Linked DNA regions of Homo sapiens: regions 1 and 3 are each linked to region 2. The links come from fine-mapping of genetic effects on gene expression. A gene starts in region 2. Each other region holds a variant in brackets. All regions are shown on one strand. Distances are from middle to middle. Region 1 overlaps TDRD9 (tudor domain containing 9). Region 2 holds the start of ATP5MJ (ATP synthase membrane subunit j). Region 3 holds the start of RD3L (RD3 like).

Region 1 (4,278 bases), 41 kb before region 2:
AAACAAAAAAACAAAAACAACAACAAAAAAAATAGTAACTAGTGATAGCTGTGGAAAAACCAGGCCAGGTTAACTCCAGCTTCCTGGGTCTCAACTGCTTCTGTAAAAATGAAAATGTAAAATTAGATTTCTATGACTCTTCCCAAGTTTCTATTAACATTTTGTAATGAATCTGCAAATAATTCTACTGAACATGAGAAAAAGAGCTGTTACTACATTCAAGTGGTTTTAAAATGTCATCTTAAATTCTTCAGACATATTTTTATCTATTAAATATCTGTTTATTTATTTTTAGACACAGGCTCTAGCTCTGTCACCCAGGCTGGAGTGCAGTGGCACAATCATGGCTCACTGCAGCTTTGACCTCCTAAGCTCAAGCCATCCTGCCACCTCAGCATCCCAAGCCAGGACCACAGGCACGTGCCACCATATTCCACTAATTTTGGGGGGTGTGTTTTGTAGAGATGAGGTCTTGCTATGTTGCCCAGGCTGGTCTGGAACTCCTGGCCTCAAGTGATCCTCCCACCTCCAGACATATTTGGAAACAAGTAACTTCCACTTTTCCACTTACAGATTATATGCAGCATTTTTAAAACTCCACTCAAATTCCTCCTCCAGAACTCCCCGACCTCCACTCTAAACTTATTTAAGCTCTTATCCTTCTAACAATTGATATGGTCAGGAAATACAAATTAATTTGAATACTGGCCTCTAATTTTTAGTTGCATGATTTACTCTAAAGCAAAGTAAAAATTAAATTTGAAACATTTCTAGTTTTATCTGTAACTCCTTCTTCCAGTTAATAAAGGTTCCGATACGCTTACTCTTAACGATGCTTAATAACACGCAAGTAATTAGGAACTTAATCGTCCTACTGTTACATCTGCCTGGCATTGTTAATACAATGGTATGTCAATGATTGATTACATTAATCAACAGGCAGAGAAAGGGCCAACGCTGTAAAGAAAACCCAGTGGAAATGCTAGGGTATGTCATTTGCTTCATAAAAACATTTAGCAGTGAGTTTATTTAAACAAGAAGCTCTCCTGGGGAAGACTAAGTGTTTACTTGCAGATATTTTGAGGAAGGAAAGACTAGATAAACTAAATGTTAGAAGATGTACTCAGGCGAAGACTAAAGAAATTAAAGCACAGATCAAAAGAAAAGCCATCGATATGGTTACTACACAAAATCATCTGCAGGTTGGCCTGAGCACACCCTCCTCTTATCCACCACAGAACCTTGTACACCACAGAAGTGTTCACCTGGCAACTGGTAACTTTCAAATTAGAAACCAAAAGTATTGGGCCTCAGACATGTATTCAAACAGCAAAATTACAGTATAACAAAACAATTTTACCTCTTCCTTGTATCGACTTATAGGCAAATCAGGATATTTATAAGTTGTCCCTGGGATGCATGTCACACTGCTTAATTTAGCCAAAGATGGCCTTGGACCTGGATTAAGGCAAAACAAACAAATACAATGCCATTTCTTATCTGGAAAAAGATAACTCAATGTTCTAATCTATAGATACAGCATACACACACACACACACACACACACACACTCAAATACAAAAATACATTTTCTACAGGCTAAAACTGCCATCAGGGCAATACCAAAGACATGGAACGAACATAGGTATCCATCAATGGTGGATTGGATAAAGAAAACATGGTACATATACACCATGGAATAATATGCAGCCATAAAAAAGAATGAAATCATGTCCTTTGCAGCAAGCAACATGGATGTAGCTGGAGGCCATCTAAGCAAATTAACACAGAAACAGAAAACCAAATATTAAATGTTCTCACAACTGGGAGCTAAACCTTGGGTACACACGAACATAAAGATGGGAATAACAGACACTAGGGACTCCAAGAAGAAGAGGGAGGGAGGGGCAAGGGCTGAAAAACTTCCTACTGGGTACTGTGTTCACTATACAGGTGATGGGATCAGTGGAAGCCCAAACCTCAGCATCACCCAATATACTCTTGTAACAAACCTGAACATGCACCCCCGAATCTAAAATAAAAAGTTTAATTTCTTAAGAAACTTCCCTTAGCAGCCCACTATTAATCTTGTATAAAAGCAAACTGAGAACATTCTATCCCTCCATCACAGCCACCAATATTGCAAGCTCAGCACTGCCTTCTAAAACAGGCCTGTAAAACACGCACTCATTGCTGATTCAGTGGTACCAAAACAGTTAAAGAGAAAACTTTTCCTTGAAATTTCAACAGAATGCATCAATTTAAGTGTGCATTCCCTGCTACTAAAATACATCAGT[G/C]ATAGCAATAAATAAATCAAACAATTTATGAAATACAGGTATCAGGAAAGCAGGCAGCTTGCCTCTGCTCAGGATACATGACACAGAGCTCTGACCAGGCACACTTCTCTGCCCTCTTGTAAAAACATGCCCTGCTCTCTGGCTGCACTACAAATTCTAAACCTCTGGTCATCACTTGACAAACTGGCAAATCATCAAAACTCACGGAAGACAAACTTTTGCTGGGAAATAAGTTTTACTTCCAAAATAAACTCTTAGCCAAATTTAGCACCGCACTCATTCCCTTACCCCACGACTCACCTTCCCTTCCTATCAGCCCCTTGTTTCTGACCAGCATCTCCTGCTGTGTCACCCTCGGCCTTTCCTAATAAAACACACAACCAGGCTTCTCTCTTGTTTTCCTACATCTTTTCCCTACATATATTCCCATTTTCCTAACTGGTCTAATAACATGTAATTAAAATGTGGCTATTTTCCCACATTTGAATCAAAGTTACGTGGTCCCTGTTCTCAATTATATAAACAGAGGAACCAGATCTGTCATACTTTCTCAAAGCAAAAATAGCTTCTTTGTGAGTATGTTCTTCCTAAAATATTAGTGACCCCTAACTCAGGAAAGCTGTCCTGCCGATATGGCTTTTTTTTTTTTCCTTTTTTCTTTTTCTTTTTTCTTTTTCTGGACAGAGTCTTGCTCTGTCCCCCAGGCTGGAGTGCAGTGGCGCGATCTCGGCTCACTGCAACCTCTGCCTCCTGGGTTCAAGCGATTCTCCTCCCTCAGCCTCCTGAGTAGCTGGGATTACAGGTGCCCACCACCACACCCGGCTAATTTTTGTATTTTTAGTAGAGATGGGGTTTCACCATGTTGGTCAGGCTGGTCTTGAACTCCTGATCTCGGCCTCTCAAATTGCTGAGATTACAGGCATGAGCCACCACGCCTGACCTATGGCTTTTTAATCTTCTAATCAGCCTAACTAGTGATTGCCAAGTTTACTAAAACAGGGATTTTCTTTCCATTATCACGTCTCACTTTCCTTCCATTCCTCTTCTCAGTGCTATGGTAATTACTGATGCCTTCTTGTTTTCCCAGTTAATATACCTAGGCCTTCTTGAACATAATGAAAGAAGGGGAAGAGAATCCCCATGGCCCTTGTGAACTGGACTGAGAGAAAGAAGGCCCTGAGCCCAGACACAGCATGCAGACAAAGGGAGAGGCAAGTATTCTAGTGAGGAACAGGGTGGGAGTAAGAAGCTGAGGAAGAGCTACTCAAAGGGGAAAGAAGGTGACAAAGATTCTTTTAGAAAGACGAAAAAGGCTGCAGCCACGTTCGTTTTGCTAAAAGACTTCAAGCCCTGGCTCACATGCCGCTAAACAAGCCCTGTTACTTAGACAATATTGGCTTACATTACTTGATTACATGCATTTTGAAGACTGCTACTTAAAGACAGAAATTTTACAAGAAAAAATGCCAGAAGTCCTAACGGTACTGTCTATACCATAGCCCCTTCTCCATGTAACGCAAAACACAAGCTGACATTTTTAGGTCACTGGCTGAAGCAGACCCAGCACAAATCAAGTCCTGCCTCCGCGTACACTGCCAAAGGGCAGACAGGAAACCAAACAGCAGAAATGTTCCCAGCTGTGTGGCTCTCGCACCTTTGCATCAGCAACAGAATAAGAAGGAAATCCATCACGGATAATTTAAGGCAAATCAACAAACTACATACAACAAAGCAAAAATCCAAAAACGGCATGAGGACCAGCTCAACCTTAAAATTGACTATTCTTATTTTCTTGCTGTCTCTTTATCCTACATGATTAACAACACAATGTTTTACATGAACTGGGGAAAACTGGAAGCCATAAAAATTGCTAGTTCTCTTCACTAAGACATATCACTATATCACCATCAACCAAATATGAAATCTAACCAAAAAGTTCAGCACCTAGAGGTTCTAAACAGCATGTAAGGAATTTTAACTG
Region 2 (4,163 bases):
TTCCTTTAAAGATGGGATCTTAATACATTGGCCAGGCTGGTCTCAAAATTCTGGGCTCAAGCAGTCCTCCCAAAGTGCTGGGATTACAAGCATGAGCCACCATGCCTAGCACGATTTCCTCTTAGTTTGTCCTTAACTGTCTTTATTTTACCTTCTTTTCTGAATGCCAATTTCCCTGTGTATAGAATTCCCTGTGTATAGAATTCTTGATTGGTGGTTACTTTCTTTGAGATTTTATCTTTATCTTTTCTATGGCTTTATTGTGAGATTTCAAGGTATTGATTTATTTTTATTTATCTGCCTGCTTGGTTTCTGTAAGGCTTTTTGTTTGTTTTTTGTTTTTTGTTTTTGTTTTTGAGACGGAGTCTTGCTCTGTTTCCCTGGCTGGAGTGCAGTGGCGCCATCTCTGCTCACTGCAAGCTCCGCCTCCCGGGCTCACGCCATTCTCTCACTCAGCCTCCGGAGTAGCTGGGACTACAGGCACCCACCACCACACCCAGCTAATTTTTTTGTATTTTTGGTAGAGACGGGGTTTCACCGTGTTAGCCAGGATGGTGTGGTGATCCGCCCGCCTTGGCCTCCTAAAGTGCTGGGATTACAGGCGTAAGCCACCGCGCCTGGCCTCTGTAAGGCTTTTTGAATCTTTGGCATGATTTTTTTCTCATCACTTTTGGAAAATTCTCAGCCATTAGCTCTTCAGATATTTCTGCCTCACCTCTTTAATTTCCTTCTAAGATACCAATTACCCATATGATTGGTATCTTTCCTGCTGTATCCCTCTTATTTTCTGAATGGCTTCTTCGATCTTGCAGTTTATTCTTTAACTGTCTAATCTGCCAAATCCATCCAATTTTTTGTTTTGTTTGTTTGAGACAGAGTCTCGCTCTGTCGCCCAAGCTGGAATACAGTGGCGCCATCTCAGCTCACTGCAGCCTCCACCTCCAGGGTTCAAGCGATTCTCCTGCCTCAGCCTCCCAAGTACCTGGAATTACAGGTGCGCACCACCACCACACCCAGCTAATTTTTGTATTTTTAGTAGAGAAGGGGTTTCACCATGTTAGCCAGGCTGGTCTCAAACTCCTGAACTCAAGCAGTTTGCCTGCTTTGGCCTCCCAAAGTGCTAAGATTACAGATTACAGGCCTCCCAAAGTGCTGAGCCACTGCGCCCAGCCTCCATCCAATTTTTATTTGGCTTTTTTTTTTTTTTTTTTTTTTTTGAGATGGCGTTTCACTCTTGTCGCCCAGGCTGGAGTGCAAAGATCTCGGCTCACTGCAACCCCTGCCCTCCGGGTTCAAGTGATTCTCCTGCCCCAGCTTCCTGAGCAGTTGGGATTACAGGCGCCCACCACCAAGCCCGGCTAATTTTTGTATTTTTAGTAGAGATGGGGTTTCGCCATGTCGGCCAGGCTGGTCTTGAACTCCTGACCTCAGGTGATCCGCTCGCTAAATTTTTTTCTTTTATGATTTCTAGTTCTCTACTGGAAAATATTTCTGAAAAAAAAAATATATATATATATATATATTTTTAAGACTATTAAGCCCAGTGTCTGGAGCCCCTGTGGAAGTTTTATATTATCTGCTGAGAAGAATATGCACAGAATACAGACATAAAAATATGCAGAGCAGGCCGGGCGCGGTGGCTCAAGCCTGTAATCCCAGCACTTTGGGAGGCTGAGGCAGGTGGATCACCTGAGGTCAGGAGTTCAAGACCAGCCTGGCCAACATGGTGAAACCCCGTCTTTGCTAAAAATACAAAAACTAGCTGGGCTTGGTGACCAGCGCCTGTAATCCCAGCTATTCAGGAAGCTGAGGCACGAGAACCGCTTGAACCCGGGAGGCGGAGGTTGCAGTGAGCCGAGATCGCGCCACTGCACTGCAGCGTGGGCGACAGAGTGAGACTCCGTCTCCAAATATATATATTTTATACATGCAGAGCTAAATAATTAACAATAGAAAGGGACAAGACACACCACTGAAATGGGAGACTTGACTTAGTCTTTAACGTCACAGTAAAGAGGGTCCCTTTTCTTAGGTTAACCAACCCTCCCGGTATGTCTAGAACTTTCCTAGTTTCAGCGTTGAAGGTCCCGCGTCCCAGGAAACCCATCAGTCGTGGGAAGATGTGGAGGATTAGCCAGCCCACAGTGACACACGCGGGCACACCCCTAACGCACCCTCTCCCCGCCCCTTCTTGCCTGCGACACCAGGCGGCCGCCGGGGGCGCTGTGGTGCGGAGGCGCCGCTGGGGAGGCACTCTGGCCTTGCGGCGTCTCTGCTGCTTCCGCCTTCCCGGCATCCCCTGCGCGCGCCTGCGCGCTCGGTGACCTTTCCGAGTTGGCTGCAGATTTGTGGTGCGTTCTGAGCCGTCTGTCCTGCGCCAAGGTGAGTACGGGGACCTGGACCTGGCTCCCGAGGTGCGAGACGGCGGGGGCGGGAGGGCGAGAAGCCGCCTTGGCCCCAGCTGATCTTGGGGTTCCACCCCTCCGCCGGCACGCGCCTGCTTTTCTGCCCGGCTTTCCCTTCTCTGAAGGGAGGTAGGCCAGGGTCGGTTGCCAGAGGGAAGCATCGCCTAGGCCTGCGCCGCGTTTCCCTCCTTGGCCTTAACGCGCTCAGTGCACCTGAATTCTCCCACGGTTTTGACAGGGAGCGTACCTTGGCCTTGAGAGGTTCAGCTGCCTAACCCAGAGGCTACGCAGAGTTAGAGAAGCCAGAGTCCAAGCCAAGAACTCTGACTCCACATCCAGTCCCTTCTCTCCTTTATAACTCAAGTTTCCTTGCGCCACACTGCCCTCCACGTTATGCTGTACATGACAACTTGGGTGAGGCAACAGGGAAGCTGAAAAGAGATCATACGGTGCTGAATGAAATTGTATGGAACTCGCGGGTCAGACATTTCCCATTTCCAGTGTCAGGTAATAGTTCGCCCTTAATGTAATGTGCCAAAACTTTGCAGACTTAAGTGGATACAGTAGACACACGTTTGGCCTATGAATAAGATGGATTTTTAAAAGGTCTGGTGCTGTAAAACTGACACACACAGCTAGGAAATGTGCCTGGGCAGAATGGACTCAAGAAAGGGGCCGGCCGGGCGCGGTGGTTCACGCCTGTAATCCCAGCCCTTTGGGAGGCTGAGGCGGGCGGATCACGAGGTCAAGAGATCGAGACCATCCTTACCAACATGGTGAAACGCCGTCTCTACTAAAAATACAAAAATTAGCTGGGTGTGGTGGCAGGCACCTGTAGTCCCAGCTACTCGGGAGGCTGAGGCAGGAGAATCGCTTGCACTCGGTAGGCGGAGGTTGCAGTGAGCCGAGATCGCGCCATTGCATTCCAGCCTGATGACCGAGTGAAACTCCGTCTTAAAAAAAAAAAAAAAAAAAAAAGTAGGGGCTGTCGTTTTATTATGTGTTGGGAATATGTAGCTGGGCGCGGTGGCTCACGCCTGTAATCCCAGCACTTTGGGAGGCCGAGGCGGGCGGATCACGAGGTCAAGAGATCGAGACCATCCTGACTAACACGGTGAAACCCCGTCTTTACCAAAAATACAAAAAATTAGCCCAGTGTGGTGGCACGCGCCTGTAGTCCCAGCTTCCCAGCTACTCAGGAGGCTGAGGCAGGACAATCGCTTGAACCCTGGAGGCGGAGGTTGCAGTGAGCCGAGATCGCGTCACTGCATTCCAGCCTGGGTGACAAAGCGAGACTGTCTCAAAAAAAAAAAAAAAGTAGGGGCCGGACGCGGTGGTTCACGCCTGTAATCCCAGCCCTTTGGGAGGCTGAGGCGGGCGGATCACGAGGTTAAGAGACCGAGACCATCCTGGCCAACATGGTGAAACCCCGTTTCTACTAAAAATACAAAAATTAGCTGGGTGTGGTGGCGGCCTCTTGTAGTCCCAGCTACTCGGGAGGCTGAGGCAGGAGAATCGCTTGCACCCGGGAGGCGGAGGTTGCAGTGAGCCGCGATCGCACCATTGCACTCCAGCCTGATGACCAACTGAAACTCTGTCTAAAAAAAAAAAGGGGGGGCCCTCGTTTTATTATGTATTGGGAACATGTCACTTGTCCAGGCAAATATGGCAACTGAAGTCAAGGGGAAAGGAAGGGAAAGGTATTTGCAAGCTACTGAATAGCAGGCCCCTGTTGCACTGGGGACTAAGGGTAATTTT
Region 3 (4,278 bases), 22 kb before region 2:
TACAGATCTTAAAATTTTACATAGACACACATATATTATGCATGATACGGTCCTATTTCATTTTAAGTCTTATAAAATTTAATACTTAGCTAACAAGGTGTAAACTAGAAAACTATGACAATGACCAAAAAGCAAAGGACCTAACAGCTTAAGCTTTATGTCGTCCACACAAAATATCCTAGGAAGTTTGCAATTCATCAGAAACAATTCATTTTTTCAACTCATTATAATGTAAGATAAATACAATCCAAGATACTTCCTTACCTTTGCTTACAAATATTTATGTTCTCTATCTACACAGCAGTAGAAGAAATACTGTAATCAGAGAATTATTTGGGTCTCTACTTCAATCTGATAATCTCAGGAGACAGGACAAAATAAAATCTGTAAGGCAAGTAGCACACACTAAGTACTAGAAAAATTGGTTTACACAATTAACTTCAAAGGAAGGTATACTCAATGTGAGTTAAGGTGGTAAGAAAAGTTCTGAAAAGGTCTTTGGTAATGGTTTCAATGGCAAGAAAGGTGTCAAACAAGTAAGTGGAGAAGGAAGATTGCCTTCAAGAAGCTCTTCCAGTGGCTAGCTCATTGATCTCTAAATCTCTGTTAAAAGGATACCTCCTACCCAAAAAGGTCTTCTCTGACCTCCAGTTCTAAGTGGGAGAAGTGTTCCAAGTATATTAATAGATTATGACCATCTATAATTACCTTACTGATTTGTGTACTTATATTTGTCTTCACATTTGGAGGCTGGCTCCTTGGGAGTAGGAACTAGGTCTTTCTTGTTCACTGCTACACCCCAGCCCCTAACTATTCAGGCCCTGGCAGACAGTCAATAGATATCTGTTAAGTGACTGAAAGCCAGCAATTACAGTAGAGGACACAGCAGGATCTAATTGGAAAGCATTAGGAAAAAGGGAAAAGAAGCCGGGCACGGTGGCTCACGCCTGTAATCCCAGCACTTTGGGAGGCCAAGACGAACAGATCACTTGAAGTCAGGAGTTCAAGACCAGCTGGCCAACATGGCAAAACCCCATCTCTACTAAAAATACAAAAATTAGCTGAGTGTGGTGGTGCACGCCTGTAATCCCAGCTACGAGGGAGGCTGAGGCACAAGAATCACTTGAACTCAGGAGGCAGAGGTTGCAGTGAGCCAAGATCACGCCACTGCACTCCAGCCTGGGCGACAGAGCAAGACTCCATCTCAAAAAAAAAAGGGTGGGGGGCGGGGTGGAGAGAGAACAGAAACACAGACCAAACCAGTCTTTCTATAAGTTTAACAGTGAAGATAAATAAAATCAGAGTTCAAAGGAAAAGAAGGGCCAAGGAAGATGTTCACATTGACCCTCAGGTTGAAGGAAAAAATCAGTTGGTATTTGAGCTGGTCCATGAAAAAGAGAATTACTATGTGGATACATGAAAAACACAAAGAAGCAGCTTTTCAGAAGAGAAAAAACAGTTGAACCAAAGCTGAAGGATCAGAAGTAAGCATGGCAAGCGTCAGGGGGCAACGTGGCCTGGCTGAAACAAAAGGTGTGCTCTAGGGTCGAGCAAGAAAGCAAGCCAGGTAAGGAGGGATAACGTAAGACTGTAGAGGGCCTTGAAGGAGGGATAATGTGAGACTGCAGAGGGCCTTGAACAGAAATTTGGCTTAAGTTCCATATCCAATATGTTCTGATATTTTTGTTACCATTTCAGAGGAAAAAAATTTATGCAGTAACAAGGAGGTTATTCAAAGGAGTATGCGGCAAGATTCGCTGTAATTTTAGTATAAAATTTGGTAGGACACTTCTGTCATCATAAACTTTACTCCTTTCCTTC[T/C]CCTAACAGTATATGCAATGTCATGTGAAAACCTTCCAGTTGACAATAATCAGTCCTGACATCTGGCTTTTTCTAACATCTAAGCAACAGGAGCTGTAGGGTGGCCACACACGTCACTCTGGGTCATGCATGACATGCAAGTCTGATGTAAACAACGTCTACTCTTCATGGCTCACTTGAAAGGAAAAGCAACAGAAGAAACAAATACTATAAAAGGGAAAACCACTATGCAGTCGTTTCACAGAGAACTGGGGAGTAAAAGACCTTTTATACTATCTACTCTTTAGCAAAAGACAAACACTTGCATAGGAAATTAGCACAGGCCAGCGCAGTGGCTCATGCCTGTAATCCCAGCACTTTGGGAGGCTGAGGCAGGTGGATTACTTGAGCCCAGTTTACGGACCAGCCTGGGCAACACAGGGAGACCTTATTTCTACAAAAAAAAAAAAAAAAGAAATGTATGTGTGTGTGTATATATGTGTGTATTATATATGTGTGTATATTTATATATACATATATAATACATATACATATGCGTATATATACTTATGTGTATATATACATATATGTACATATATAAAATACATACACATATGTACATATATAAAACATATATGTATGTACATATGTGCGTGTGTATATATTTTTTTAAACTAGCCAGGCATGCCGTAGCATGCACCTGTGGTGGCATGCACCTATGGTCCTGGCTATTCAGGGGGCTGAGGTGGGAGGATCACTTGAGCCCAGGAGGTCGAGGCTACAGTGAGCCGTGATCATGCCACTGCACTACAGCCTGGGTGACACAACGTGACTCTGTCTCAAAAAAAAGAAAGAAAGAAAAAAGAAATAGCACAATAATGACCATTACAAACCAATATGCACCTAAATAGTAAATATAAGTTTTTCATCCTCAGCTCCAAAAAAAAAACACGAAAATGATTTTTCTACGATGAATTATAAGATTTTGTTTAGAATTTTGTATGTTCTTATGCCTCTATTTTTCCCTGACAACCAATTACTGCCTTATTACCATATTTTCAGAGATTATAAAGTATATTTTAAAGTTATCTAGCTGTTTATTATGTCCCCTAGCATTTCAACTTGCTTAAATATACAAATTTAACTATTTTGAAAAAACCAAAATGAATACAAAATGTAACATTTGCTAAATATTTCACAATTATAATTCACATCAGCATTCTTTACCTATTTCACTCAATTACAATGAGTTTTCTCAGAATGTATGTTTTGCAAATAGTCAAGTCTAATCTATTTTTCCTGTTTTCACTAGAGGGGACAGTGACCCGGCTTCCAAATGGCCTGAAAGTTAAGCTGAAGAATAAAAGCAACGTGGCTATTTTTAGAGCTCTACAGGCATAAAAATACAGCACTAAACTGTGACCTACAGCTATGCACAGCAAAGCATCACATCACGCGACAGTCTTCACTCTAGCTCGGAGCGCATCTATGGTGCTTTAGACGACCATTCTTCGTTTCACTACCAAAGACATGTCGGAATGCATTTAGGACCAGCATCTATAGCTGCTGGCATTTTTTTCAAATAGACTGAGCTACATTGAAAAGGCAGACCATTATATAACTTGTGAAGATTAAATAGTCAGTTATTTTTGTCATTTCTTCTAGCTTACTTACAAGGTGAATTAATGAGCATTCTCTCCAAATGAAGACATCACAGCCTCATTCCTAACACAGAAAGTTATTTATTTCAAATACAGTTTCGGTGGGTAAATAAGGTGGCGCATTCCTTCTACAGAGGACACACCTAGGAGAGCAAGATACGTCCCAGTGAAACACAGCTTCGTCACCAACTTCAGTCAACTCTTTGGCAACATCACATCAGCCCATCAACTTAACAGGTAAGCTTTAAACCTTTTCTGTCCAAAACATAAATCAAAAGTATCTGTAGGCAGCACTTGCCCCGACATTAATATTTTAAGTCTCTTAAGAACTTTTCACAGCAAGTGTTAGTGTTATTTTCGGATATCATTCAGTCTATATGTTATCTCTGACTTTGTATATCTAATTTCTGCTAAGCTACATAAAAGCATTTTCAAAGCTTGGTTTCTGCCACTGACCTAGTTAAAAATTAAGACGTTAATCCATGTTCTAATCTTATTTTGACCTGCATAGCTAAATGTGAAAAAAAATCGTGCACTTTTCGGGCAAATTTATTGTAAAGAAACAAATATTTGCTCAGAAGAACATAACATTTTGAGCAAATAAACAAGTGAAAATATTTCCATAGGCTAAAAATGCCACTTTTTGGCTGGATGAAATGGCCCAAAAACGATTCCTACAAACCCACACACTATCCTGGCTCAGACATAGTGACAAAGACTCTGCTTCGGGAATTAAAATGGCACCTAAAGGAGCGAGAGAGATTAATACAAGAAATCGAAAATGAACAAAAAGTGAAAAAAACAGGTGTGGATTACA

Evidence for each region. PIP is the estimated chance that this variant, and not a neighbour inherited with it, causes the effect. A credible set is the group of variants that fine-mapping cannot tell apart.
Region 1: its variant is the best candidate, but not a certain one, in a credible set for the expression of ATP5MJ in whole blood (INTERVAL, PIP 0.69).
Region 3: its variant is the best candidate, but not a certain one, in a credible set for the expression of ATP5MJ in whole blood (INTERVAL, PIP 0.58).

What each region holds. Positions count from the first base shown.
Region 1 is chr14:103,960,259-103,964,536 of GRCh38, reverse strand. It overlaps TDRD9 (tudor domain containing 9), which reads right to left. Exons shown (of 36, transcript NM_153046.3): 3 at 1,361-1,458. Among named protein-coding and RNA genes, the nearest start is that of RD3L, 20 kb to the right of the region's middle. The variant G/C (reference allele first, on the strand shown) is at 2,298.
Region 2 is chr14:103,919,689-103,923,851 of GRCh38, reverse strand. It overlaps ATP5MJ (ATP synthase membrane subunit j), which reads left to right and starts at 2,323. Exons shown (of 4, transcript NM_004894.3): 1 at 2,323-2,382. RefSeq lists silencers at 2,130-2,299, 2,186-2,358 and an enhancer at 1,993-2,668.
Region 3 is chr14:103,941,512-103,945,789 of GRCh38, reverse strand. All of the region lies in intron 1 of TDRD9 (tudor domain containing 9), which reads right to left. It overlaps RD3L (RD3 like), which reads left to right and starts at 3,261. Exons shown (of 3, transcript NM_001257268.2): 1 at 3,261-3,698; 2 at 4,088-4,278. The coding sequence starts at 4,095. The variant T/C (reference allele first, on the strand shown) is at 1,822.